Linked DNA regions of Homo sapiens. The protein of the gene in region 1 interacts with the protein of each later gene in a pairwise test. Each region holds a gene or a part of one and is shown in the gene's direction. Other genes may lie near its edges.

Region 1 (7,360 bases):
GGAGATCGAGACCATCCTGGCTAACAAGGTGAAACCCCGTCTCTACTAAAAATACAAAAAATTAGCCGGGCGTGGTGGCAGGTGCCTGTAGTCCCAGTTACTCAGGAGGATGAGGCAGGAGAATGGCGTGAACCCAGGAGGCGGAGCTTGCAGTGAGCCAAGATTGCGCCACTGCACTCTAGCCTGGGTGACAGAGTGAGACTCCTTCTCAAAAAAAAAAAAAAGATTTCTCAAAAGAATAATCTACATTGCTGCCTCCAATTTCTCCTCCCAGTTTTCTCTTCTGCCTTCTCCAATCAGCCTTTCACCTGTATTCCTCTCAGCTGACATGCCCTTGTCAAGGTCACCCATGCACTCCACGGTGCTGGATCTAATGGTCAATTCTCACTCCTCCTCAGCCACATCTGACACAGCCCATCACTCCCTGTTCCCTGAAACATCGTCTTCATGACACCACACTTGCCTGGTTTTCTTTTTTTCTTTTCTTTTTTTTTTTTTTTGAGACAGGGGTCTCGCTCTGTCACCCAGGCTGGAGTACAGTGGCACCATCTCAGCTCACCGCAACCTCCGCCTCCTGGGTTCAAGCGATTCTCTCACTTCAGCCTCCCAAGTAGCTGGGATTACAGGCGTGAGCCACCACACCCGGCTAATTTTTTTTTTTTTTTCTTGAGATGGAGTGTCTCTCTGTCACCCAGGCTGGAGTGCAGTGGCACAATCTCGGCTCACTGCAACCTCCACCTCCCAGGTTCAAGCAGTTCTCCTGCCTCAGCCTCATGAGTAGCTGGGATTACAGGTGTGCGCCACCACAACCAGCTAATTTTTGTATTTCTAGTAGAGACGGGGTTTCACCATGTTGGTCAGGCTAGTCTCGAACTCCTGACCTCGTGATCAGCCCACCTCAGCTTCCCAAAGTGCTGGGATTACAGGTGTGAGCCACCGCGCCTAGCCATATTTTTGTATTTTTAGTAGAGACAGGGTTTTACCATGTTGGCCAGGCTGGTCTCAAACCCTCCCATGGGCCAGACACAGTGGCTCATGCCTGTAATCCCAGCACTTTGGGAGGCCAAGGCAGGAGAATTGCTTGAGACCAGGAGTTCAAGACCAGCCTGGGCAACATAGCAAGACCTTGTCTCTACAAAAAAATTTTAAAAGTAGCCGGGCATGGTGGCATGTGTCTGTAATCCCAGGTACCAGCTACTTGGGAGGCTGAGGTTGGGAGGATCACTTGAGCCCAGGAGTTTGAGGCTGCAGTGAGCTAGGATCACACCACTGCACTCCAGCCCAGGTGACAGAGTAAGATCCTATCTCTAAAAACCAAACAGCAGGCCAGGCGCAGTGGCTCACGCCTGTAATCCCAACACTTTGGGAGGCCGAGGCAGGCAGATCACTTGAGTCCAGGAGTTCAAGACCAGCCTGGGCAACATGGTGAAACCCCATCTCTACTAAAAATACAAAACTTAGCCAGGTTTGATGGCATACGGCTGTAGTTCCAGCTACTCCAGAGGCTGAGGCAGGAGAATCACTTGAACCCAGGAGGCAGGGGTTGCAGTGAGCCGAGGTTGCAGTGAGCCGCGATCGCACCACTACAATCCAGTCTGGGCAACAGAGTGAGACCCTGCCCCCCCCCCCCACACACACACACACACACACACACACACACACCAACAATGACTAAAATACTAAGTTATCTGTCACCACCCCTACCCCATTGCCTCTTGGACCTTGTCCTTCACTGCCCTCTTTTGCTCACTCCACTCCAGCAATGCTGGCCCCTTTGTGGTTCTGTGAATGATCCTACTACATGGCCTTTGCACTTGCTGTTTTCTCTTTCTGGAACCCACTTTCTCCTTCATTCCTTCAGATTTCTGTTTCAGTCTCACCTAATGAAAGAGGCCTTTCCCCATGTAAATTAATTCTGGCTGCATTACTCCATTCCCTTAGCTGCTTTCTTGTTATTTATTTGTTTATTTATTTAGAGACATAGTCTCGCTCTGTCACCTGGGCTAGAGTGCAATGGCAAATCTCGGCTTATTGCAACCTCCGACTCCTGGGTTCAAGTGATTCTCCTGCCTCACCCTCCTGAGTAGCTGGAACTACAGGCACGCATCACTATGCCCAGTTAATTTTTGGCATTTTTAGTAGAGACAGGGTTTTGCCACTTTGGCCAGGCTGGTCTCAAACTCCTGGCCTCAAGTGATCCACCAGCCTCAGCCTCCCAAAGTGCTGGGATTACAGGCATGAGTCACCATGCCCAGCCACTGCTTTCTTTTTCTCCTTGGTACTTATCACGAAGTTACACTGTATTTCCTTATTGTTTGTGTCCCCAAGAACTAGAATGTAAGTCTTTTTGTTTTTTTTTTGTTTTTTTTTTGAGACGGAGTTTCACTGTTGTTGCCCAGGCTGGAGTGCAATGGCACGATCTTGGCTCACTGCAACCTCCGCCACCCGGGTTCAAGCGATTCTCTTGCCTCAGCCTCCCAAGTAGCTGGGACTACAGGCATGTGCCACCACGCCCCGCTAATTTTGTATTTTTAGTAGAGATGGGATTTCACCATGTTGGTCAGGCTGGTCTCGAACACCTGCCTCGGCCTCCCAAAATGCTGGGATTACAGGTGTGAGCCACCGCGCTCATCCTATTGTTGTGTTTCTAGCACCTTAAGCAGAGCCTGGCACATATTAGATAGTCAAGAAATATTATTGAATGAATTAATGAACCAGCAGTTAATGAGCACAATAATTCTATGCAGTGTGAAGGCTGTTGCTTAAATGCAGGAGGTAGTGGATGGGGTTTGTGACATGGCCCCACCCTGGTGAAACAGCCTTTCCTCAAAGCGTCTATAATGCCACACTCTCCTGGTTTTCCTCTCTCTGGCTGCCTTTTGCAATATTCATCGACAGCGTCAATTCCTTTGCTCAAATCCTGCCTCTCTGTTTCAGGGTTCTGTTCAGTCCCTGTCTCCAGTGACCCTTCATACCCTCCCCGGGCTAGACCCCTAACTCCCACAGCCTCAATTACCATCTTTGACGATCCTTAAATCTTGGTCTCCAGCCTCAATTTCTCCCTTAAGCTCCAGACCCAGGGTTTGTGCACCTCCTGGACCTCGCTACTAGGCATCCACATTGGGCTTAGTATCTTCCCAACCTGCTTCTGGCGCCCAGTCTCCCGGCTAGAGGGGCCTGGTCCTAAACTTTTCTCCCCCTTCCACTCCATAGCCAGCCAGTGTCAGGGCCCGTTCGCTCTGCCTCCAGGGCGTCCCTCCCACCTGCACCTCCTTCCCTCCCCACAGTCCCTCCCTCGTGCAAACCCCCTCTTTCTTCCCCACCCCCTCCCCCAGCTGCCTCCCTGGACTCCCGATCCCGTTTCATTCCCTCCAATCCGCCCTCCATGTATAAGCCAGAGAGACATCTCTCCAAAACCCCAGACTCACCATGATCCTCCCCGGCTTGAAGCCCTTCACGGCTCCCTAGTGCCCTCGGGACAAGTCCAAACTCCCTCAAGTGGCCAAACAACTGGCCTCTGCTCGTTCCTCACCCCTCCCTGTCTTCAACTCGACCCTCCATCCCGACTGCCTCTCTAAGTGCCTGTAACAAGCCAGATCTCTGTCACCGAGAGCCTTCTGAACACAGGTCCCTCTGATTAGTTCACCCGGACCCAATACAGTTTGTGGAACGCACAGATCACAACCAAAGTCACAGCAACAACTCCCGTTTATTGACAGCCTCCTTGATCCTTAGCGCTTTCTGTGCATTCTCTTCCCACCCTAAAGGCTAGATCTCGCCTCGCCATTCCCATCGGAGAGAGCAAGCGGCAAGGCTGAGAACAGCGCGATGAGAAAGCCGAGCGCCCAGAAGCCCGAGTGCAGACGCCCACTGAGGACAGCCTTGGGTGAGGCGGGCCACCCAAGGGGCGGGGAAGAGGAGGCCTGGAACGCCTGAATCAGGAACTGTGACTTCGCTCGGGGCAGCTGGGGTGGACGCGCGCGAGCCTGCCCCCTGCGGGCCTGGAGGCCCAACCTCAGACTCCGCCGGGCCCGTTGCCCTGGGCAACGCCCCGCGCGCCCCGCCCCTTCCCCGCCCCCCAGCCCCAAACCCCAGGCCTGGCCGACTGCCCGTCACCCCCACGTCCGACCAATCCCGCCGAGGAGGGGGCGGGCCTCTTGGGCCCCGTTCCACCACCGTCGCTCCCCCCTCGCCGCGACCCCGCCTTACTCGGCTCACACCTCCCGCCCTTCGGGCTGCCCTCGCCGCCCGTTGGCTGGCGCGCCGTTCGTCACCCGGGCGTGAGCTAATGCCGGCGCGCGGCGGCCCCCGTCGGGGCGGGGCCAGGGGCGGTGACGCACGGCGCGGTGACGCAGCGCGACGGCGGCGGCGGCGGCGGCGGCGGTGGTCGGTGCGGGAGGAGGGAGGGGAGCTTGCGGGCCCGAGAGGGGGCGACGGCGGCGGCGGTGGCCTGAGGAGGCCCGAGCGGCGGCGGTGGCGGCGAAGGCCGAGGCGGTGAGTCTCGGGCCGGGCCGGCGCGGGGCGGCGGCGAGTCGGGGCGCGCGGGGCTCCCCTCAGGGCGACCCAGGCCGCGCGGGCGGCCCCGCCCCCTCAGGGACCCCGAACCGCGGGCGGCGGCGGCGGGCGGGTGCGGAACGCGGGCCTCGGGGGGCCGGGCCCCACGGGAGAAGCCCCGCGCCCGTCCCCAGTCTCCCTCCTGGGCCCTGGCCGAAGCTTCCCTCCGAAATCTTTCTCATGCCCTCGGGATTGCCGAGGGGCCGGGCCGGGGGCCTCTCCTCAGGACCCCCCGCACATCCCCCTCGGAGAGCCCCGGAAAGCCTGCCGATCCCCCGTGTGCGCCCTGAAAGGTCCCCGCAAAACCCACCCCTCCCGTGGAGTCGCCTCCTCGAGCCCTTCATGGGTCCCAGCAGCTTTCCTCGCAGACCCCCGCCCTTTGGCCCCGAAGCCCCCGTCCTCCTCCTGTCTCCAGAAATAGTCCTCGGAGGCCACTCCTCGTCCATTCCACAGCGTGGCTCTCATAGCTGCTCCAGGAGCCTCCCTCACGAGCCCTGCACACCTCCCCAAGGCTCCCTCCGGACCCCTGTCCATTCCAGAACTCTCCCCCGGAGCCCTGCCTCTCACAGCCCAACAGGCTCACCCGACTTCCCCCTCCCGGATCCTAAGAATTTTCCCTCCCACTTACCCCATTCCAGAAACCTCCTTGGAGATTTTCCGCTCATACCCCCTGCATTTCTGATTCCCCCTCCCAGAAGTCCTTCAGAATGCCCCCGACGGACCGTGATCATCTTCCCTGAAGATCTCCTTCCCATATCCCCAAAATAAATCTTCCTCACAGACTTTGTGAAATGCCCCCAGATCCCAAAAACTCACCTAGAAGACTCCATCCCCCTCCCCACCGTATTGCAACCATCTCTCATACACACTCCCCCTTCACGTATCCCTCTGGACCTTTCCACAGATCCCAAAAGTCTCCCCCAGAGGCCTCCTGTCTCCCCCTGGTCTCACCACCCTAAAATGCCCTAGAGATCACCCTCATGTAGCCCAGTGATCTTCACCGGGATCCCCTTCCCCACCCCCACTCATTCTAAAAATCTCCAGCAATTGCCTGAAATCTCCAGAGGACTCTCAGCATCATATTCCAAAAGCTTCTTCCAAAATCCCTTTTACATACTCCACATCTTTTCCAGTCCCCCACATCACACGCTCCAAAAATTGTTTAAGGATCCTGAAAACTTTCCTCATGGTTTTTCTCTCAGATCCCGTAGAACTCCCCTTCACTAACACCTCAGAATCCCCCCTTGCAGACCGGTTTTAGAGGAATTTTCTGAAGATCCTCCTCACAACCCCTGTAAGACCGTAAGATTCTCTTGGTGACCCCTCTGATATGCAGGTTTTCAGGACCCCCCCCCCCCACACACACACACAGCTTAGAGACCCCAGCGACCCCCTGGAGCCCTCCTGACGTATGTTCTTGAAATCCCTCCAAGACCTTCCTGACACCACCAGAACCCCTTGAATCAATACTTCTGCCTTACTAAGGGACTTTTCTAGAGATATCCCTCCCTGAACTTGCTCACACAGGTCCCCTAAATCCTCTAGAATCCCTTGAAGAAGACCCTCACACACACCTAATTTTCCCCCAAAATAACCCGAGCTCTTGCTCTGAGAAAGTCCTATAATTCTTTCTGAAAAACCCTCTCCTCTGACACTCTCTCAGAAGACCCCGCCTTCCCCATATACTCTTTTGGAGACTTTACTCAGCTTTCTCCTCAACTGAGATCTCTGAAGAGTTTTTCCTAAAAACATCCCTCTGTCATCCCACTCCAGGACCAGTCTCAGAAGACCACACCTTCCTCAGACACTTTTTAGAGAATTTTCTCCCAAATTGCCCTCCATCAGCCACCCACTCCCAGCGCTTCCTGAGACTTCCTCAGAACTTTCCCTCAGATTCCACTTCTGACATCCCCAAGAAACATTATTTAGGACCCTATCAGATTTACCCACTAACTTTAGAATTGCTATTTACACCCTCTCATTTCCCCATTCTCTTTCCTCTGAAGTCAACTCAGAGACCTTTCTCAGGGGGCCCCCTTTTCCCATTATCCCTTCAGAGGTCCCCAACATTCTCCAGACTCGTTGCCCAAGAGCCTCTATGTTTCCTTGTAAAGATTCTTGAGAGACACCTTTCCCCGCCCCCTTGAAATCCCAGTGCTCCGAGATCTTTCTTTCAGACCATTTTTCTTAGGTGCCATGCTCATAGACCCCTCTTCCCTTCAGAGATCAAGAGACCCTTAACACCCTCCTTAGAGACTTAGGATTCTCCCCATTTCCCTTTCAGAAGCCTTCTTCCTTCTCCCCTTTGAGGACCTCCTCACCAAATAATCCCTTCCCCTATAGCAGTGGTTCTCAGTGTGGTTCCTGGCCCAGCAGCAGCCACATTTGTTAGAAATACACATTCTTGAATCCCACTCAGATCTACTGAAACTGAAAACCTGGGAGCAGGGCCCAGCAATCAAGAGTTTTTAACAAACCCTCCTGGTCATTTTGATGCACACGCAAGTTTGAGAACCTGTGCCCTTTAGGAGGATTTCCTTTTCCTCACTAAAAGCCCCCTGAAAGATGCCTCAGGGTATGCCTCTGTGCCCTACTGCCCACTGCTGCTTTCCTGTTTCCTAGGAATCCCCTTTATGAAGTACCCATCCTCCAGAAAGATTTCTTACCTACCTTGAAAGGATCTTGGCTTCTCCACAAGGTTACTCCATCCTCTGAGCAGTTATTTCCGATTCTACTTTTGAATGGTTTCTTTTCAGATCTTCCTCAGTGCTTTCTCTTTCTGGCTACCCCTCCAGCCCACTACCAG
Region 2 (7,181 bases), on another chromosome or scaffold:
AAAAACAAAGAAAAAAAAAAAGAAAAACAAAGGTTTTTAAAGGAAAAAATGAGGAGGATTACATAATGGTTTTGAAATAATTATCCTTGGCTACAAATATCAATAACAAAGGTCACACCAGTCCGAGGTTGGACAGGCAGTTGCTAGGCAGATGTCTTTGCAGAAGTAATTTTTGTGTGAGGTTGCAGCAGCCTATGTGCAAGGTTGTAATTTTTGCAGAATCTTTTGTGATCATTTTTGGTATTAGGCATACAAGCATGAGAATCCCCTCTTCATGGCCTCCCCAGCTCTATTTGTCATGGTTTGTTTTTTTAAAACACTAGTGACTCTATTTGAATTCTAACAACTTTCACATTCCCAACACAAATGATAGACATTTAAGGGATTAATATGCTAATTACCCTGATCATTACACATTGTATACATGTATCAAAATAACACACTGTACCCCATAAATACATACAATTATGTGTCAATTAAAGATCATTATTTTTAAAAATAGGACCAGAAAAAAAGATGCAGACCCTCTAGTAAGGAGATGGGATCAGGAGTGATTCCATGGTTAATTTAACCCACATAAACAACTAATCGTAAGTATGGTATGAGCGTTTATGTAAAGACTGTGACAACAGGAAATGTCTGTCTTTGAACCCAAGGTTATCTAACCAGCACACCAATGGTGAAAGATTAACTTTGTCAGAAACCAGGAACCATGAAGCAGAGGTCACTGTTTCCAACCTGTGTGTTTTCCACGGTAATTGGCAGCCTCCCCAAGGGAAATTAAAACATATGTCCACACAGAAATTTGAATGCAAATGTTCATAGCAGCATTACTCATAATAGCCCAAAGCTGAAACAGCCCCAATGTTCCACAGTGGATGAATCGATGAACAAAATATGGCGCATCCACAGAATGGAATACAAAGAAAGAAAGCGTGGACACATGCTGCAACATGGATGAACCTTGAAAATATTGTGCCAGGGGAAAGAAACCAGAGACAAAGAGCCACATGTTGTAGGATTCCATGTATATGAAAGGTCCTAATAAGCAAACTCATAAAGACAAAAAGCAGATTGGTGGTCACTTAGGGCTAGGGTGAGGAGTGACGGTTAGTGGGCACTGAGTTTCTCCGGGGGGAACTGAATTAGATGGTGGTGATTGCACAATTCTGTGAATAGACTAAAAACCACTGGACTGTAAGAGGGTGAATTTTTTGGTATATGAATTACATCTCAATAAAGCTGTTACTTAAAACGTGGAAAAAATAATAAGCAGTCACTAGCTATTCTCAATAAAACAGAAACCACATAGGTAAGACCAATATTGTCACATTTTGGTTTTGGCTGATAATGGGGCAAGTGAGCATAGTCACCGTTGCCAGAGGATTTACCATTTACAAATAAAAGTTTCTGTGGAGTGACAACCTTTTACTGTGTGCCAGGTACTGTGCTAAGCACTTTGTATATACCGATTCATGTAATCCTTGTGACAGCCCCGTGATGCCCCATTTTTAGATGGGGAGATTGAGGTTAGGAGAGTTGAATAACTTGCCCATAGCTGCACAGCTTCCAAGTTGCAGAGACAGGATTTTCACCGAGTCTTATTACAAACTGCCTCATATTGTGTGGACTGGAAATTCTATGTTGAGGTTAATTTATTCATTTGTTGTTTAGTTCTTTTCATCATTGTTGAGTTACCAATGGCAGTTCCAGAGGATTTATCATTTACCCCAAAGCTACTGCAAATCTAAGAGAAAACAATGTTCTTGCTGCTAAAGTTTAATGTACAAAAAGGTAAAATCATGACTGTCTTGCAAATAAAACATGAACATGTATCCAAGCTTTTAACTCACTGATTAATAAGGAAACCAGTAAGACGTCAAAACCAGTTCAAATGGGAATTTGATGTACAGAAATTTATATTCTAACAACACTTATTTAGTTCACTGTAAGAAATCATTTGCTTTGGCAGATTAGGCACTCAGCAGAAGCACCAGCCAGCTCAGCCTTTGGAGGGAGAATTCCATGTTGTTGGACCCATACATATCCTCTGTCCCTGCTGCCAAGAGCTCTTTGTTCATCGGCCCGTTGAGCAGACACCACAGCAGCTGCATAGAGAGGCTGGCTGACAGCCACAGAGCATGTAATTCTGTCCATCTGATTCAGGGTCTTCTCTGCAGTGGATGCCCTTTGGTGGGCATTCAGGTGAGATGCAGATATCTTCAGTCTGCCCATTCGGAGGGATTCAGCCACATATCTCTTTCCAAGATTTTCTTGTCACCAATCTTCCAGTCCTGTTCTTTTTAAGGCCCTGACCATCCAGCTAAACCATCAGCGACTGTCCATGAATCAATTTAGGTCTGTATTCTGGCCATCTCTCACTCCAGACATAGTGGACAGCCTTGAGTTTCTGCTCACTGGAAGGATTCTCCTTCACCACTGCCCTTCACAGTCACCCCTGAGTGAGTGTGAGTGAATACTGCAGCTGTTCTCTTTCATGTGGTACCAGCACATCATACAGACCCATCTATAATCCAGGCTGGAGGTTTTTCTCCCTCAGTCAACTGGACATAGGCAGCATCCCAAGAAGCCATAGTTGTAGAATGAGGGAGAGGAGGCAAAGCAACAGGAGTTGATGTTGGAAGAGTCTGAGCCGCCTGCTCATACAATTTACTTATACCTTCTGAACCTGCCTGGGCTGTTTCTAATACACCATTTCCATTTGATGATAGGTGGCTGCTGTATACATCCAATTTTATGGCTACGTAGGTCAGATGACATCCAGTTCATGATGGGAGCTCAAGCTTCATGGTCAGGCATTCTGCCTCTATCAAGGCCTAGTAGCAAGGCAGAACCTGCTTCTCAGAAGGAGAGTAGTTATCTTCAGAAGAGGTTCTAGATTTACTTTAGAATTCTAGAGGTCTGTACTCTCTCCTGTCAGTGCTTGCCAGAGGCTCCATACAGCATCCCTGTTGGACAAAGTCCCACTGGATCTGTTGGATCACAAGACCCAAGTGGTAGGGCAGCTTTACTGCAGCCTGAACCTTCTGCAGAGTCTTCTCTTATTCTGCTCCTCAATCCACCAGCCTGTCAATTGGGTTGAAATAGCACAAACACAGTATATGTTGCCTTCAAAGTCCAAAATGGCTTACTGTTCCAGGCTGTGTCCCCCAAAATTCATATGTTGAAATCCTAACCCCCAGTGTGATGGTATTCAGAGATGGGGCCTTTGGGAGGTATTAGATCACAAAGGTGGAGCCCTCACGAATGAGATTATTGTCCTTATAAAAGAGACCCCGGAAAGCTACTCCACACCTACTGCAATGTGAGGACACAGCAAGAAGCCTGTTGTCTATGAACCAGGAAGCAGGTCCTTACAAGACACAGAACCTGCCAGGGCCTCAACCTTGGACTTTTTAGCCAACAAAACTGTGAGAAATAAATGCCTTTATTTATAAGTCACCCAGTCTATGGCATTCTGCTATAGCCGCCTGGACAGACTAAGACAGCTGCCAAGTGCCGTGCCTCTTTTGTAGTGATGCAAGATGCAGCAACTCATCTTTCACCCTGGGAGGGCTATTTCAACATGCTCCAGACCCCTGAACCCCCAGAAATACCACTGCTAGTATCCATTCTGCATCAGTCTGGATCCAATCAGGAGAAAGAAGCCACGGAGTAATATGAACTGAGAAAGTTTAATATAAATATTAGATGGCCGGGCGCGGTGGCTCACGCCTATAATCCCAGCACTTTGGGAGGCAGAGGCGGGCGGATCACGAGGTCAGGAGATCGAGACCATCCCGGCTAACACGGTGAAACCCCGTTTCCACTAAACAATCCAAAAAAATTAGCCAGGTATGGTGGCGGGCGCCTGTAGTCCCAGCTACTCGGGAGGCTGAGGCAGGAGAACGGTGTGAACCTGGGAGGCGGAGCTTGCAGTGAACCAAGATCGCGCCACTGGAGCTAAATAACCCGAGTCTCACAGTGCATCTGATTGCTACGCGAACACGTGCGCACCACCAGGCCTTGCCTTGGGGACTGGAACAGGTGCAGGTGGGATTCCCATCAAAGGCTCTTCTCTCAGTCCTGAAAAACAATATACCGGGGGCCGGGGGCCGGGGGCCGGGGCGGGGCACGGCAGCCCTACCCTGGGGGAGGCGCGGCCGGGCCAAGAAAACCAGCGAAGGCCCGGCCCCCCAGCAGAGGCCGGACCATGGTTGACCAGTTGCGGGAGCGCACCACCATGGCCGACCCGCTGCGGGAGCGCACCGAGCTGTTGCTGGCCGACTACCTGGGGTACTGCGCCCGGGAACCCGGCACCCCCGAGCCGGCGCCATCCACGCCCGAGGCCGCCGTGCTGCGCTCCGCGGCCGCCAGGTTACGGCAGATTCACCGGTCCTTTTTCTCCGCCTACCTCGGCTACCCCGGGAACCGCTTCGAGCTGGTGGCGCTGATGGCGGATTCCGTGCTCTCCGACAGCCCCGGCCCCACCTGGGGCAGAGTGGTGACGCTCGTGACCTTCGCAGGGACGCTGCTGGAGAGAGGGCCGCTGGTGACCGCCCGGTGGAAGAAGTGGGGCTTCCAGCCGCGGCTAAAGGAGCAGGAGGGCGACGTCGCCCGGGACTGCCAGCGCCTGGTGGCCTTGCTGAGCTCGCGGCTCATGGGGCAGCACCGCGCCTGGCTGCAGGCTCAGGGCGGCTGGGTGAGCACGCGGCGGACACCGGGACACGGGGCGGGACGGGCAGCCGGGAAGCGCCCACGAGGCTGGCACGGTGAGGAACCCACCGCGCCAGGCCCCTGGAACGAGGTTTCGTGAAAGCAGAAAGGCTCGTTTCAGCGGGCCTGGAACGTTCGCTGTGAAGTCTGGGGTTTCTCCTCCCCTGGCAGAAAGGCCGGCAGAAATCGGCCTTCTTAGACGGCCGTGAACCGTTCCGAAGCAGCTGCGCAGGCTTAGGTCTGCTCACTTGGACCTTGCCCTGGCCTTAGCCGTCGGGGACTTTTAGGGGGGCACCCACGTTAGGTCTGAACGTTTTGCTCCTATAGAAATCCCCAACCAATGAAGTCAGCAATGGCGGGGCCCCAGCCAGGTGGGGTGTTTTTCTCCTTCGCCTATTAAATGCGCCTTTGGAGAGACTCAGACCCATTGATCACAACCCCCTACGCCTCTCAGCCTGGCCAGAGAGGTTGTGGAGTGTGGTGGTCGCCCAGTGGTGGCGCTGACCCAAGGTTCCTTAATTTCTAGTCCTCTGCACCCAGTCCTCGGTGAGAACGTTCTAGGCCCCTGGCTTTCAGCTGCAAGCCTTCATCTCTGTGGTCAAGGTTAGAGGGACAGGCCCTTGCCCTGCAGCTGATGATCAAGGAAAGCCACCTGGTGATGAGCCCACTGCATGCCTCTGGGGGCTCTGAGCTAGACCCCATTTCTTTCCCCACCACCTTATTGGCGTTGATTCAATGACTGAAGTGGCCCATGTTATCGGATACCTATAGCCAAACTATTAAAACCAGCAAGTTTTTTGATCCGAAATGTAGCCTCCTGGGGGCAGTTTCCATTTAGACCTTTTTCTTTTTTTCTTTGAGGCGGAGTCTCGCTCTGTGGCCAGGCTGGAGTGCGGTGGTGGATCCCAGCTCACTGCAACCTCTGCCTCCCGGGTTCAAGGATTCTCCTGTCTCAGCCTCCGGAGTAGCTGGGACTACAGGCGCGCCCCACCAAGCCTGGCTAACTGTGTGTGTGTGTGTGTGTGTGTGTGTGTGTGTGTGTGTGTGTGTTTTCAGTAGAGATGGGCTTTCACCATGTTGGCCAAGATCTCGATCTCTTGATCTCGTGATCTGTCTACCTCAGCCTCCCAAAGTTCTGGGATTACAGACGTGAGCCACCTCACCTGGCCCCCATTTAGACTTTCTATAGTGACAAGTTGGGTTCTATCTGAGAAGGGAAAGGGAGTGGGAGGTGTGTTAGCAGGAACTCCTGCCTTGTTCATAATGTTAGTGTTGGTCTTCAACCCTCTGGGCCGGTGAACTCCCTTCAGCTGCGTGCCTAAGAGCCTCACCTGAGCCCTGTCTCAATACGGCATCTGGCCCCTCCGGGCTCTCTGTACCTGAAGAAGAGATTAGAATTGGAAAGGGGCCGTTGAAGCCTTTTTTTGTTGTTTTTGGCTAATCACTGTTGATGAAAGAATAATCTCTTAACACCAAGGAGCTGAAATTCTTGGCTGGGTGCAGTGGCTCGCACCTGTAATCCCAGCACTTTGGGAGGCCAAGGCAGGTGGATCACCTGAGGCCAGGAGTTCAAGACTAGCCTGACCAACATGGTGAAACCCCCTCTCTACTAAAAATACAAAATTAGCCAAGCACGGTGGCAGGTGCATGTAATCCCAGCTACTAGGGAGGCTGAGCCAGGAGAATCGCTTGAACCCAGGAGGTGGAGATTGCAGTGAGTTGAGATCTTGCCATTGCACTCCAGCCTGGGCACCAAGAGCGAAACTCTGTCTCAAAAAAAAAAGCTGAAATTCTCAAATTGGGTAAACATAGTTCACCCTTGTCTCTGCCCATTGCAGTTAAAATGCCACAGCCTGGAGTTCAATTCCCTTCCTAAATGGGGTTGGTGCTTGCTGTAGTGTCAGGTGATAACTTTTCAATCTAGTGACTTGACAGTTTCCCAAAAGGCATCTCTTCTTTGCTCAGAAAAGAGCATAATAAGCTACCTTCCTCTTGGTTTTGAGTCAAGATATGAGTGTTCCTGCACCAAGTGACAAAGTTAAATGCTTGCTTCTGTTCACTCTGTTAGACTTACCAATCCTCACTCCTCAGGGGCTCCTCATTACTGGATGTGTATTGGTCAGAATTTCCTTTCCTTTTACTTTTTAAATCCAAACTTTACTTTGCTGTTTAATCTGGAAGTTCCTGCGTGTTTTGAGTGAGGTTCTCAGCATCATGAGGCAATCTAACTTTTCTCTCTCCCCCCTGTAGGATGGCTTTTGTCACTTCTTCAGGACCCCCTTTCCACTGGCTTTTTGGAGAAAACAGCTGGTCCAGGCTTTTCTGTCATGCTTGTTAACAACAGCCTTCATTTATCTCTGGACACGATTATTATGAGTTTTAAAACTTTTAACCCGCTTCTACCTGCCCAACTGTGACCAACTAAATGACAGATGTGTGAGAACAAGAACTGAGGGAAAGCACCT
Region 3 (7,931 bases), on another chromosome or scaffold:
AGGATATATTCTACTAAAAGATATATATGTATCCTGTTTTATATATAAAGGGATTTATTACCTAAGGGATTTGTTTATGTCTCTAATCAGAGACAGAGGTAAGTCCAAAAGAGCCTATGCTCCAGTTTGAATCTGAAAGCAGGCAGGCTGCTTTACAATCAGAAAGAGCTTGTGTTCCAGTTCAAAAGTCATCAAGCAGGAGAATTATCTCTTAATTGGAAGAGGGCCACCCTTTCTTTCTATTCAGGACTTCAGCTGATTGGATAAAACTCCCCCATAATATGGAGGACATTCTGCTTTAACCTACAGATTCAAATATCAATCACATTTTAAAGCATCCTCACAGCCACACTCCAAATAATGTTTGACCAACTATCTGGGCACTCTGTGGCCCAGGCAAGTTGACTCATAAAGTTAACTATCACACTTGGCCTGATCAAAATTTTGAGATTTCTGTCCTGTGTGGGACACTGGCTGACTATAGTATAATAAAGGTTATCAATGGAAGGTGGGGAGAATAGAAACCATTCTAAGAATGTTTTAATCCATTTTGCAATACTATAGAGGAATACCTGAGGCTGAGTAATATATAAAGAAAAAAGGTTTATTTAGGTTACAGTTCTACAGGATATTCAAGAAGCAATGTGCCAGCTTCTGGCAAGGGCCTCAGCTTAAAATCATGGCATAAAACAAAAGGGGGGCCAGGCGTAGTGGTTCACGCCTGTAATCCCAGCATTTTGGGAGGCCAAGGCAGGCGGATCACGAGGTCAAGAGACCGAGAACATCCCGGCCAACATGGTGAAACCCTGTCTCTACTAAAAATACAAAGAATTAGCCTGGTGTGGTGGTGGGCACCTGTGTCCCAGCTACTCGGGAGGCTGAGGCAGGAGAATCACTTGAACCCAGGAGATGGAGTTTGCAGTGAGCCAAGATTGCACCACTGCACTCCAGCCTTGGCAACAGAGTGAGACTCCGTCTCAAAAAAAAAAAAAAAAAAAAAGGGGGGGGGACAGAGGAGCAGCTGTGTCACATGGAAGAGGAAGCAAGAGGAGGAGGATGTGCCGGGCTCTTTTTAACCATCAGATCTTGCCGTAACTAATAGAATGAGAATTCACTCATTACCACAAGGAGGGCACCAAACCATTCCTGAGGAATTCACTCCCATGGCTCAAAAACACCTCACTAGGCCCCACCTCCAACACTGAGGGTCACATTTCAACACTAGATTTGGAGAAGACAAATATTCAAACTATATCACACAGGTATCATTGAAGGAATGCTTGTGGTTTAGGACCTGATGGTTGGTGCCACTTACTAAGCTGTTGTCTTTCAAATGTAAATCCATTCTTTCATATTCTACTTTGTGAAGGCAGGGTTGGAACTGTTCATATTTTATTTCTCTTTAGAGATAAAGAGCTGAAAATTTAGCCAACTGGAGTCCTGGAAGGTGTATCCAATAAGTGGCACTGGAAGGAGACTGGAAGGCAAGTGGAGGGGTTAGGATCTTGTTTGTTTGTTTATTTGTTTGTTTGTTTATTATGTTGCCATCCTAGCAATAAAACTTGACTTTGCAGTAGCAAATGTTTCTAGCAGCAGTTCTTCCCAGTTTCCAAGATCTTTCCACATTCCCAGAATTGGTTTTATCATTCTTCCTTATCATACCAACACCTGCCAGATACTGCCTGCTTCTAAGAAATCTCTATTCCCCAGCTCTGAAGGACCACCCCCCACCTCCCTCCGCCACTACCCTCCGCCACCTCCCTCCGCCACTACCCTCCATCCACTAGCTCAGATTGGCAGTGTTCCCCTCCTCAGAGGTCTGGTTCCTAGTTTATGGGGCTGCTCCTCCAAACTTTCAAACTCTGACTATCCCAGCCTCTTCCCCAGCCCTGTCATCAGGTAGAAAAGAATGAATTTATTGAGTGAGGACTTTGAGAATATAACTAGGATAATAGAGTAACATATTTCAAATCAATGTAGGTGAGAAAGTTTCAATAATTAGAGGTGTCAAAAAATTGAATGGGTTGGATTGAATTTTCCATCATTGATTTAATCAAAACAAGCTGAATTGCCATTAAATGAAGATATTGCCAAGGGAAGGCAGTGTCTTCATTTAGCGGTAACCCCCTTGGCAATATCATCATTTAGTGGCAATTCAGTGGGAGACTGGGCTGAATGATATCTAAGGTTCTTTTCATTTGGAGAATCTTACAATGTAATCCATAGTAAAATATAATCATAACTACCATGATCGATGACCACTACCTAACAGATACTGGATCCAATTCCTTATTTATATTATTTATAATGATTATAACAACCCTATATTGTTGGATATTATCATTCTCATTTTATAGATACAGAGAAAGTAATTGAGGATCACGCATGATAATTAATTGGCCAGGGTCACAAGAGTTTTCAAGTAGTTACAATAGGATTTGGGCTCTTATGGGTTGCACTACCAACTTCCTAATAAGTCTCAGACATGTGACTCTGGAATATTCTTTTATGCAGCCTTATGGTGCCTGATTCCTGCTAACCCTTTTGACTTTTTTCCATACAAAATATGGTAGGAGGAAAAGCAAAGAGATGTGATGAGTAAAACGTGATGACAACAGTTACACATTCATCAAACCCATGTTACTTATCTGTACACACTGCCATTTGGACATGCTGCACCTCTGTCATAAATGCACTCTCTTTAGCTACCTGGTAAACTCTGGCTACTCCACTCCACTGAGAAGGCTATTTGGGCCTGTCTTCAGAGAGCATTAGGGGCTCCCAAATGTCTGTACAACACAACATGTATTATTATTGAAGCTCACTATACATTTTCTACCTTTTTGTTTTTGCTAATCTATCTGACTGCCTTTGAGGGCAATAATTTATTCATTTTGTATGCATAGGACTTGGCATGATATGTGACAGTAGCATTCAAAACATTTTCTATAGTGTGTCAAGTCAATTCCTGGTTTGTGATAATGGGGAAGTTTATATGATTTTTCTACAACTTATTGCTCCCAGAGGGGAGTTTCAAGAAGAGCATGGATAATGATTTTGAACATTACAGTTGGGCAAAACTGTTTACTTTTTCTAAGCCTAACTCATCAGAAAGACTTTTCAGCAGTTTCTAACGTGATACAAAAATCATATGATAGAAACTGTCCATTGAATTCAGGAGAAAGATCATTTGATTAACCATTTTGAGAAAAGCACCAGTGGAACAGTGGGAGTTGAAACAGGTTTCAGTAAGCCAAATCTTACACTGAACATAAAGAAGAGGCAGAGGTACAGACCACTCTCATGAATATTTACTTTATATAGAGGGGATGGGCAATAGATACAATTGGTTGTTGTTCTAAGGAGTTTCCTTTATTAGTTTGGAGAGGGGGAGATTTGAACTTACAGTAATGAAATGTTTAAAGGAAAGAGGCAATATAGAGAAGTTAACAAGGAGAGGAACAATCTGTAGAGCTAGATCTGAGGAGGCTCCTAGGAGGGAAATGGCATGCAAATGCAAATGGATAGATTTATTTGAGGCAACAGAAGGGATACCAATTTTTTTTTCCATTTCGACAGGGTTACAGGGAAAAGGATAATGTGGATATTGACAAGGTTATAGGATTTTAGGTGGTATTGAGGTAGCCCCAGTGAGGGCTTCAAAAGCAATGGTAGCATAGCACATAATTAGGAGCACATGATCTAAGGGCCAACCCTGGATTTAAATTCCAGCTCACCCTCTTACTAATAGCGTAACTTCAAGAAAGCAATTTAACATGCTAGCGCCTTGTTTCCCAGTGATTATAATCATGCCCTTACCCACCTTGAGTGGTCTAAAGACTTGATCAGTTAACACATATAAATTCATGTAACAGTGCTGAGCATAGTAAGCTCTATACATGTTCACCAGCATCAGAGTGTGAAGCACGGATTGTCCCACTTCTACTGGAAGTGCCTGAGTGTTGGTGGATTCAGAGATTTTAATAGAAGACAATTTGAAGGGAATACTGCAGAGCACAAAAAAAGCTGGTGCAACATAAAAGTCTTAAGCAGCTTTGAGGACCCAGTTTAAATTGGGGGTCACGGCCGGGCCTGGTGGCTCACGCCTGTAATTTCAGCACTTTGGGAGGGCAAGACGGGTGGATCACCTGAGGTCAGGAGTTTGAGAACAGCCTCCAATATGGTAAAACCCTGTCTCTACTAAAACTACAAAATCATTAGCCAGGCATTGTGGCATGCGCCTGCAGTCCCAGCTACTCGGGAGGCTGAGATGGGAGAATTGCTTGAACCCTCGAGGTGTAGGTAGCAGTGAGGTGGAGGTAGCAGTGAGCTAAGATTGTAGCACTGCACTCCAGCCTGGGCGACAGAGAGACTTGGCCAAAAAAAAAAAGAAAAAAGAAAATAAATAAATAAATAGATCTGGGGTCACAAATATGTATTCCAGCCATCTTCAAGCTTCTCCTCACTTCATCTGGTATAGATAGATGGGAAGAAGGCAGACAGTTGGGTCAGCCCAACTAGAAGCTGTGAAGGAACAACAATGAGGTGGTGGAATTGAGAACCCTAACAATAGATAGACAGTCTGAAGTAAGAGAACATGGAGACTAAGCTAGATATGTTAACAAATGAAAGGGGCTTTATAAAGAGAGAGACTAGAGAGATGAAGGGTAGAAAAGGTGGGAAATTGGTATTCTGCAATTTTCTGAGGAAGAAGGATAGGATATAAGGAATTATGGTAAACTGACTTCCATAACTCAAAGACACTGCAGACAACTTGAGGCCTTGCCTTCCCTGCACTGGACTGGAATACAACTGGGGAAAGGGTGGGGCCCATAGCAGGGAGAAGAATAAAGAGAATAGTGATGGAACTGGGTGGGGCAGGGCTTGAAGGCTGTGGGTGTGGGGCCCCATAATCATTTGGTCCAGGACAGGCAGTAGGCGTCAGGGGGCGCCCTAAGGCTCCACGGCATGTGCCTGTATTGCTGGGACATCGAGCCTTCCCAAGTCAACCCTGTGAGTCTGCTGGGGCCTACAACCTCAACTCTGCCACTCTGTCCTGTGCCTTGAGCTCCAGGCCACTGTGGCCTTGGCCATGGTGCTTCTAACTCTTGTAAATGTGGTTTGGTGCTGGGGGTTGGGAAATTCCAGGTGATGTAGACAGACTACATCCTGACTGCTGGACCCCTCTGAAACAAGAAAAAGCTCCACCCACTGTGTGCTTAGGGGTCAGGTACATCACCTGTATGTTGACTGCCCCATTGGCCTGCCCTAGGAGGTGGAGTGGAAATTACAGAAGTAGGGAGCAGGATAAAGTTCTCAATTGCCAGATGTGGAACAGATTGCTCTTGGGTCTTCTGGTTAAAAGATTGGATCAAAACGAGTGAAGGAGGAGTTATTTAAGGTACAATCAAGAAATAGAGGAAGTGGTGAGAATCTCGAAAACTAACAGCCAAGCTCCCTGTGCTTCAGAAAACCATACGATCTCAATCACATCACCAATTACTCCTAGGCTTTGAAACCAGATTGAAGACTAGATTGCTCAATAGCACCACTGAAGTCCTGTAGAAGCAGAAACATGCATTTTTCGATTTCTCGTACATTCTTTCCCTCCCGAATATATCTCTATACTCTGCCTTTTATCTGTAAGGTGGTTCACAGCTGGTTCTTTTTTATCATAATATCGTCTCCATCTTCCACCACAATTTTTATCTTAGATGTTTTTATTCTGAACTTGACTTTTTTCTTTTTGTTTTTTTAACCTGCTTCTTATAGTTGAAATGATTCATATAATACATAAATTTAAAAGTAGCATAGGCTTCCTATTATAATAATTAATTTACTGTTTTTAATGACTTTTTTGTGTGAATGTGTTTTAATTTTGTTTATTATATAGGAAGGACCAAGACAACATCATCCTTCAGAGGTCACTGAGCGGCAGGTAATGTTTAAATAAAGAACTAGGTTCTGGTTGTTTAAACATTGTGCTTGTAACTTGTTCCTTTATGTAGTGGTCCCTAACATAATAGAACTTGTATTAAGTAGACACTTCAGTATATTTCTTGGGACTCTGGGATCTAATGACTACTATTGGAATGGGTCTTAACTAGGGTAAACTAAATGGCTTATGTTATTTTTTAATGTAACATTTGACACATATACAAAAATAGATGTGGCAGATATAATTTATAAATTACAATATGCCTCCCATTTAAGGATTAAAATATTAGGTATTTCTGAATCCAGCTAGGGAATGCTTTTCTATTCTACCTCCTAAGGTCTCTCCCAGAGGTGACCTCCATCTTGAATTTTAGCTACATCAATCTCTTCCTCTTCTTTAATAGTTTGTTACATAGGTGTCTCTATAAGTGCACTATTTGCTTTTGCTTGGTTTTGAACTTTATAAACATAGGATCACACAAAATTTAGTGTATGATTTACTCTTTTTTCTCAATATTATTTCCTAAGATTTATCTACATTGCTGTATATAGTTTCTTTATTTTCACTGCTGTTCAATATTTTGTCATGGAACATATCACAGTTCATTAATCCTTTCTCTTGTTTATGGACATTGTGTTATTTTTACATTTTCCTAAAATGAATAGTACTATTGCAAACATTCTAGTACACATCTTCTTGCCCCATGCACAAGAATGCCATTTGATTATTTAGGCAGGAGTGTAATGGTTGAATCATAGGAAAAGCAAATTTTTTATTGTTAGAAAGTAGTGCCACACTGTTTTCAAAGCAATTGTTCAAGTTTATATTCTGTTATCAGTGGATTTTTTAAAAAGTTGGTTTTCAAAGCAATTGTACCAATTGATACTTCACTGGAAGTGGATAAAAAAGTTATTGTTATTCATATCCTTTCTATTCTATTACTGTATTTCATTATCTTAAAAGCATTCTAGTTTGATCTCCTAGGTATCTGCTACTTGTAGACGCCACACAATGGTGGCATAAAAAGCTATGTGTGTCATGCAACATTTCAAAGGAGTGAATAATTGTTTTCATATTTCTATAGAGAAAATTCCCTAGGTGTCCTTAATGAACATTATTTTTAAAGCAAAAGTAAGCACACTAATCCATGAGTCTGGATCTACTTAAGTGTATGCAGTGGTAAGATGAGAATCAAGAATAGTCTTATTTGAAAACCCTACTGATGCTCCAATGTGGTTTTCTTCACCTATGAACCATACATTTGAATGAAAGAGATTTTTCGCCCTATTTCTATGTAGTTATGTGAACCGTTTGCAGTGGTGGTGTTTACCTTTTTTATTGACACAAACCAAAAATGTAATCAGAATGTTACCTTTATATGTTACAAAAAAGTATGATTTTTCTTTCATTTTAATTTTTCTAAAGCTTGCAAATAAACGTATTCAGAATATGCAACACCTAAAGAAAGAGAAGAGGAGACTGAATAAAAGGTTTTCAAGGCCTTCTCCTATTCCAGAACCAGGACTCCTAGTAAGTATAGAGGTTTCACTGAAATTAACAGATCATTAAATGCAACTGATATCATCATTTTAATTCATGTAATATTCACTATAAATTTTCTTTTTCCCTTTCTCTTTGAGAAATTTCTAATTTCAGTCTTAAAAGTCTTATCTCATCTATTATTTAAATATCCTCTGCTGTCATCTCCTGGAGGTGATATGGTTTAATGAAAAGAGGATTATCTTTGAAACCAGGTTGTTCTGGACTCCACTTCTTGTTTTGCCATATGTTAGATGACTACATAAGGTTAATCACTTAAATCTTTTGGCTATATATCTGAAAATTTATTGCCAAATTTAAGGTCACATTAGTTCTCTTATGTATTATCTCCTAGAAGTTTTGCAGTTGTGTATGTTACATTTAGGTTTATGATCCATAGCGAGTTAATGTTACTGAAAGGTGTCAGTGTCCAGATTATTATCATTATCATTTT
Region 4 (7,023 bases), on another chromosome or scaffold:
GAATAACACGTAATTTATGTCTTTCATCTCATAATTGAACTGCAAAACCTTTCTGTTTTTAATTTATCATTTTATTCCCTAAGTCTAGCATTGGTTTTGGCACATTTTTGACCCTTAGTAAATACTTGTTGAAGTAACTCGACCTCTCACAACTTCATTTATTAAAGTACAATACACCCATTTATTGTACTTGATACTTGTTTAAAATTTGTTAAAATACAATACCCCCATTTATTGTACTTGATATTTGGTATTCATTTTCTGGACTAACTTTCCTAAAGGAGGAAGTTCTCTAATGTGATTCCTCCTGCTGAAGACTATCGATTCCCTATTTATTCAATCCAGATTCCGTTTGATGTTATACGTGAAAAGTCCATAAACTGTTTCTGTAAAGGGCCAGACGGTAAATATTTTTGGCTTTGTGGGCCATGTGCAGTCTCTGTCACATTCTTTCCCAGGCTGGAGGGGCAGTGGCGCAATCTTAGCTCACTTCAACGTCTGCCTCATGGGTTCAAGCCATTCTCCTGTCTCAACCTCCTGAGTTGCTGGGATTACAGGCACGCCCCACCACTCTTGGCTAATTTTTGTGTTTTTAGTAGAAGCAGGGTTTTACCATGTTGGCTAGGCTGGTCTCAAACTCCTGACCTCAGGTTATCCGCCTGCCTCAACCTCCCAAAGTGCTAGGATTACAGGCATGAGCCACAACACTGGCGTTTTAAGTGCCTTTAGTTTTAACAGTTCAGTCTTTACAGTGCTATTTACTGAAGTTATTTATTAAATATGCCTAAAATAGTTTTAAAAAACGTAAAAAACCATTCCTAGCTCAAGGCCATACAGAAACAGAATGAGGACCATAGCTTGCCAACCCTTCCTAAGTAATCAATTCCCCAGGTGTATCAATTATTTTATTTTCATGTTATCTTCTCTGGTCAGATAGCCGAGCATTGTCTACCTTCTGCATTAGTTGAAACTTGTAAAATTTATATTGTAATAATTACTTATAAAATGCTTTAAAGCAGAAACAACTTAATGTTTTCATAGCCCAGAGCACATGTGAGGAGAGGCAGACCATATTTTGCAGCAGCACTGTGCCAAGGGGCTGTTTTCATTAAAGAGGGTTAATGACATTAAGATGAGGTTCTCACTTAGGTAAGTTAATTTTCTGTTTATTATTTTATAATATTCTTAGGGCATTGTTTTAAGATTTTATCGTCTTGAGTATCTTTAAGCTTTAACAACTCATTTTTGATGTTTGACATGTATGCTAATTTAAAAGTATTGGTAAAGTCAGCTAAATGCATTCACACATCTAAAAAGGACTATTTTCTCTGCTTGAATGCTTATTAGAACTACTTGGAGCCCTTATTCCTCCCCCACCCCACCCCATGTTTTAAAAGTTATACAAATCATCGTTAGAAAATTAAAGATACATCAGTCTAAATATGTAGGTCTTGCTTTAGTATCAGGTTCGTCATTTCAAGCCATTCAGCCTTATTAGTGTACAAAGCACATTTAGTTACTTGGAAAGCAGGCATTCTGATTTATTGATTGTGGGGGGCTATCTTCCCTCCCTTTGTCCCTCTTTTAAGAAATTGAAAACATTTAAAATGTAATTAAGAACTTTAATCATTTGTTTTTAAACTTTTAGGCTAGTGATACAGAGCGAGATGGACTAGCCCCAGAAAAGACATCACCAGATAGAGATAAGAAAAAAGAGCAGTCAGAAGTATCTGTTTCTCCTAGAGCTTCAAAACATCATTATTCAAGATCACGATCAAGGTCAAGAGAAAGAAAACGAAAGTCAGGTATGAATTCTTAAAGGTGGTTACAACTCTCAGCATTTGTATAAGATATGTAGACCTGTTGTATAAGAAGACACATACATTTAGTTTGTTGGCTGGGCATGGTGGCTCAAGCCTGTAATGCCAGCACTTTGGGAGGCCAAGGCAGGCAGATCACCTGAGCCAGGACCAAAAATACAAAAATTGACACACTCTCAGCCCAATGCAACCTCCATCTGCTGGGTTCAGGCAGTTCTTCTGCCTCAGCCTCCTGAGTAGCTGGGATTATAGGCGTGCGCCACCACGCCTAGCTTATTTTTGTATTTTTAGTAGAGACTGGGTTTCACCATGTTGGAACATATCAAATATAATTCAACCTGTTTATTTTCTTTAGTTTTTATTTTTCTTAATGGCTTACCTCTCTCTATTAAACCCCCTTATGAATTTGCTGTAGACTAGGAAACTAGATGGGCTGGTCAGAATATATGTAAAATACTGAAAGTCTATGACCGTTTAAAAGATGTATCTAGGCTGCTTTATGTCCTGGTTTGCTCAGATTGCTTGATTTGTTTCACATGTGTGTTGTATTAATGTAGAATAATCCCACCCGTGCCATGAAAAAATTAGTCATTGGAAGAAGACTAATGGGAGTCATTTTTCTCCAGCATTAAGAGTTTTTTAAGATGAAATGTTTCTCCAACTTTGTTTATGGTGATTATTTTTTTTGTGTATTCACAGATAATGAAGGAAGAAAACACAGGAGCCGGAGCAGAAGCAAAGAGGTAATTAACACTTTGTAGTGAATAGGTACTTTAAAATACTTATAAAGTGTCTGGTAGAAAGATTTGTATGAATATAAGACGTTGTCAAGGTAAGTACAAAACTTGAAATTTAAAAGGTTTATTGGGTTATAAAATAAGCATGATTTTGATTCATCATTTTTGAAGAAGATGTTTATGTGAAAAGTACCTTCAAAACTTTAATTTTATTATATTGTGAAAATATTCACAATAAAAATTTCATATGAAGAATATGATTGGTTTTTTTAGGCCTGTCACACAGAGCTTCCATTAATCTGAGGTCCCGAGTCTCCTGGTGCCTGACAGTTGCTCAGGATTTTTAAACAGCAATCATCTTTACATAGCAATACCCTAGATATCTGTGCGCTGCTTTTTCCTTATGAACGATAACAGGAGTTCTCTTTTCTTTTGCAAACTAGTTCAGTTTCCCTAATAGTAGTATTGAATTTTGAAATAAAGGTTTGAGTGAGGGACAGCTGAAAAGGTGGCGGTGACACCAAAACTTGAGGAAAAAGAAAGGCAGCAGCTGTATTGCAAAGGAGTTACTTGTTCACCCACCTGAGAAGACAAAGAATGAGCCAATAAGGAAGTGTAGAAGTAGTAGCCAGAAAGGGAGAAGAGTCTTGTGGGGGCTGGGTAAGGGACTCCTAAAACAAGAGTGGGCAGGGACTTCACCTCTTCCCGTAATGGAAGCTCTGTTAAATTTTTAATTTAGGAGAGTTTTTGTGAAAATGACTATTTTGTTTAGCTCACATGATAACATTTCTATAATAAATCATACTCAGCGTGCTTATGCGCGAAGAGACTGAACTGAAGACGCTGCAGACTCAGATAGCAAAATAATAAGCCTACTTCATGATAAGGTAACTATTAGTCATTCAAACTCCTATTTCCCTTAAATATATCTTAAATCAGTTAAGGGTTTTAATGTTTTTTTTAAATTAATAGTAATGTTATGTTTGAAAAACTGGTTTGAAATAAACTTTAAAACCTTTAGAAGTTTAACCACTTAAGACTTTTCCAGTCTGCCTCGTTATAGCAAAACCAAGGAAAATTTCTTTTCTAAGCTCCTATAGAGAACTGGCAATGAAACTAAAATTTAATTGTGTCTCCAGGTCTCTTATTTTTCTGCAAATAATAAATTATGTACTATGATCATTTTCAGATAAATCATCATGCATGTTCCAAAATGATTGGCCAAGTTTTATTTTTAAGAAACATTAATCGTGAGTGGAAAGAAACATGCTATGGCCTTTTGGGAGACAGTAGTGTCTTATTACAGTGGAAAAGTGGTAGCGTGGGCATCAGAAAAACATGGGGAAGGTTCAGCTCACCCATGTAGCTTTGTAACTTTAGATCTTAGTTATACATAAAATAAGGGGATTAAGTTAGAGGATCTTAGTTTCCTTCCAGAATTAAAATTTAGTGATTCAGAGATGTCTAGGATTTTAAACTTTCACTACAAGATGAATTTGACAGATCTTCCTGTAGGGAACTGTAGTATGTAGCACTTCTACTTTGGTATTTGGTAGGATGAGACTTGATCATGCAGTTAATTTGAGCTGAGTCTCTGAATGCACATGTGAAGGCCTTGGTCTTTTTAAAGTGTGGGGGCAGTATGTATTGTGTGATGGCATGTGGATTGTTATACCTAGTTTGGTTTCTTTAAAATTGAAACATACAGTTGCCATTTCTACCCTAGGTACATGAAGTGTAATACTCCTCTAAGCCTATTGGGATACTGCAAGATGAAAAGTGATTGCTTCACAGTTTAGACATTGGGAGGAAAATCAAGAGCTGTCTTTTAGAGGATGTAGCAGGCAGTATAACTGTAAAAGGGACACTGCATCTCTGTGTAAAATAATTTGAAATTATAGAAAATATTAGTACTTAGTAATAATTATATTTAGCTACCTAATTGAAATGCGTTTCTGGTGCACTTTTTGTGTCATTATCTCCATTACTTACTTAAACTTAACATTATGTAATCTGGATTTAGAAGTTGATGTATATACATGGTCTGTATTCTTTTAGATAAACATAAGGGATTCCTCTTTTGTCTGGCATAATGGCTTTTCAATATTTCAACTTTAAAAATCATTGTTTCTGTTGTATTGAAAATATTTTGGGGAGGAACTACATTTTGGGTGTTTATAGTAAAAAAAATAGTAATTACATCTGCAACATTTGGGTGATGTGAAACTAGATCTTTTTTTTATTTGCCACACACTCCTAAGGTTACTAATGTTGCATCACAACATTTTTGTCTACTGATACCCATACTAACTCTCTTTGTTGCACTATTTTCCTGAAAGAACCAACTTCTTCTTAAAACAGGGAAGAAGACATGAATCCAAAGATAAATCCTCTAAGAAACATAAGTCTGAGGAACATAATGACAAAGAACATTCTTCTGATAAAGGAAGAGAGCGACTAAATTCATCTGAAAATGGTGAGGACAGGCACAAACGCAAAGAAAGAAAGTCATCAAGAGGCAGAAGTCACTCAAGATCTAGGTCTCGTGAAAGGTAAGTCATGTTGTATTATAATGTAGTACCTTCTAACAAGTTACATAAAGTTTCTCATTGACCCAGCAACACCCAAAAAAATCATAATTAGGGAGTTTTTCTTGTTCGTTTGTTTGGGTTTGTGGTTTTGTTTGTTTTTTGCCTTTGGGCTTTGCTTTCTCATCATGCAAAAATGGTTTCCAAGAATGGGGTGTAAGGGATGACTAAATCTCAAGTGCCTAGATTTCTTTTCCCTTTTTTTTTTTTGACACGGAGTCTTGCTGTGTTGCCCAGGCTGGAGTGCAGTGGCATGATCTCGGCTCACTGCAACCTCTGCCTCCTGGGTTCAAGTGATTCTCCTTTCTCAGCCTCCCAAGTAGCTGGGATTACAGGCATGTGCTACCATGCCTGGCTAGTTTTTGTATTTTTAGTAGAGATGAGGTTTCGCCATGTTGGCCAGGCTGGTCTCGAACTCCTGACCTCAGGTGATCCACCTACCTCGGCCTCCCAAAGTGCTGGGATTACAGGTGTGAGCCACCGTGCCCAGCCTAGATTTTCTTTTTTGAGATGGTCTCTCTGTTGCCCTAACTAGAGTGCAGTGGTGTGCTCTCAGCACACTGCAGCCTCTTGTCCTCCAGGGCTCAAGTGATCTGACCTCAAGCCTCCCAAGCAGCTGAGACCACAGACATGCGCCACCACACCCAGCTAATCTCTTAGTATTTTTTTGTAGAGACGGGTTTTGGCCATGTTGTGCAGGCTATTCACGAATCCCTGGGCTCAAGCAGTGTGACGGCCTTGGCCTCCTGAAGTGCTGGGATTTCAGGAGTGAGTCACTCTGCCCAGCTGAGATTTTTAACCACTTAATCTGTCTGGCACTGAAAAAATCATATTGTTAAACTGTGTGGTTTAAGCTGATAAACAGTCCTTTTGCATCATCGATGGTGATGTTGGTGTTTGCTGCTAAACTGCAATCTAGATTTTTTTTAATGTTGGAGTATAGATAAAAAGATTTTTGAGAAACTGGATCACAGCTCAAATTTGTGAATGGTTTTTGGTGGGGTTTTTTTTGGAGAATTCTGTGGGTTGTGTGTGGTATCAGACTCAAAAATTTTTAGTAGATAAACTAAAGTATTAAGATTTGTAACTACTGTGGGAAGAGTATTAAACGGAAGCTTAAATTTGGGTAGGATGCATTGAACGCTTTTGACATGTTAATAGGTTTACTATGTTCTAGGACAAATTATCAAACAAAATGAAGGGTTCGTTTTCAGTTAGTATTTCCTTTGAAAATCTCGCTTATTTCTGTAAATAATATAGTGCAGTTACTTGCTTGTCTTTATTGCGTTACTACAAGTAACTAATTCATGATGTGTATAAATGAAACAACACAACTTTTAAGTAATTACAAATTTGTGCACTTTAATTTCAGACGCCATCGTAGTAGAAGCAGGGAGCGGAAGAAGTCTCGATCCAGGAGTAGGGAGCGGAAGAAATCGAGATCCAGAAGCAGAGAGAGGAAGAAATCGAGATCCAGAAGCAGGGAAAGAAAACGGCGGATCAGGTCTCGTTCCCGCTCAAGATCAAGACACAGGCATAGGACTAGAAGCAGGAGTAGGACAAGGAGTAGGAGTCGGTAGGTGACCATCATCCTGAATAAAATTTAATAGGACCCTCAGAGAGTCTGTTTATCTTCCTCAGTAAGAGAGTATTAAAATTGTGAGTCACAATTCTATTTATAGATTATGGTAAAATTATTTTAGTCATTACCTAACGTATGAAGAACACACCTAACCACTTGAATAGCATTCACAGGTATTCTCGTGATTGATAAATCTCTTGCGAAGTGCAGGTATGAATAGGCCTATTAAAATGCAGTTGTTGGCTAGGTGTCGTGGTTTACACCTGTAATCACAACGAGGCGAGCAGATTTTTTGA

What was found.
Region 2: the proteins of SAMD4B (region 1) and BCL2L10 interact in binary tests that used the Homo sapiens proteins (3 or more experiments, as listed by UniProt).
Region 3: the proteins of SAMD4B (region 1) and CCDC179 interact in binary tests that used the Homo sapiens proteins (3 or more experiments, as listed by UniProt).
Region 4: the proteins of SAMD4B (region 1) and RSRC2 interact in binary tests that used the Homo sapiens proteins (3 or more experiments, as listed by UniProt).

Annotation. Positions count from the first base shown.
Region 1 is NC_000019.10:39,338,083-39,345,442, forward strand, and holds the start of SAMD4B (protein Smaug homolog 2), read left to right. Parts: upstream 1-4,338; 5' UTR 4,339-4,494; intron 4,495-6,042; exon of another isoform or gene 6,043-7,360.
Region 2 is NC_000015.10:52,109,759-52,116,939, reverse strand, and holds the start of BCL2L10 (bcl-2-like protein 10), read left to right. Parts: upstream 1-4,164; 5' UTR 4,165-4,213; coding exon 4,214-4,702; coding exon of another isoform or gene 4,703-4,772; intron 4,773-6,966; coding exon 6,967-7,092; coding exon of another isoform or gene 7,093-7,133; 3' UTR 7,134-7,181. UniProt on the Homo sapiens protein: Promotes cell survival by suppressing apoptosis induced by BAX but not BAK. Increases binding of AHCYL1/IRBIT to ITPR1. Reduces ITPR1-mediated calcium release from the endoplasmic reticulum cooperatively with AHCYL1/IRBIT under normal cellular conditions.
Region 3 is NC_000011.10:22,857,459-22,865,389, reverse strand, and holds the start of CCDC179 (coiled-coil domain-containing protein 179), read left to right. Parts: upstream 1-4,915; 5' UTR 4,916-4,968; coding exon 4,969-5,013; intron 5,014-5,893; coding exon 5,894-5,938; intron 5,939-7,363; coding exon 7,364-7,468; intron 7,469-7,931.
Region 4 is NC_000012.12:122,516,925-122,523,947, reverse strand, and holds part of RSRC2 (arginine/serine-rich coiled-coil protein 2), read left to right. Parts: intron 1-1,648; coding exon 1,649-1,805; intron 1,806-2,515; exon of another isoform or gene 2,516-2,519; coding exon 2,520-2,563; intron 2,564-3,366; exon of another isoform or gene 3,367-3,436; coding exon of another isoform or gene 3,437-3,444; intron 3,445-4,896; coding exon of another isoform or gene 4,897-4,918; coding exon 4,919-5,109; intron 5,110-6,517; coding exon 6,518-6,721; intron 6,722-7,023.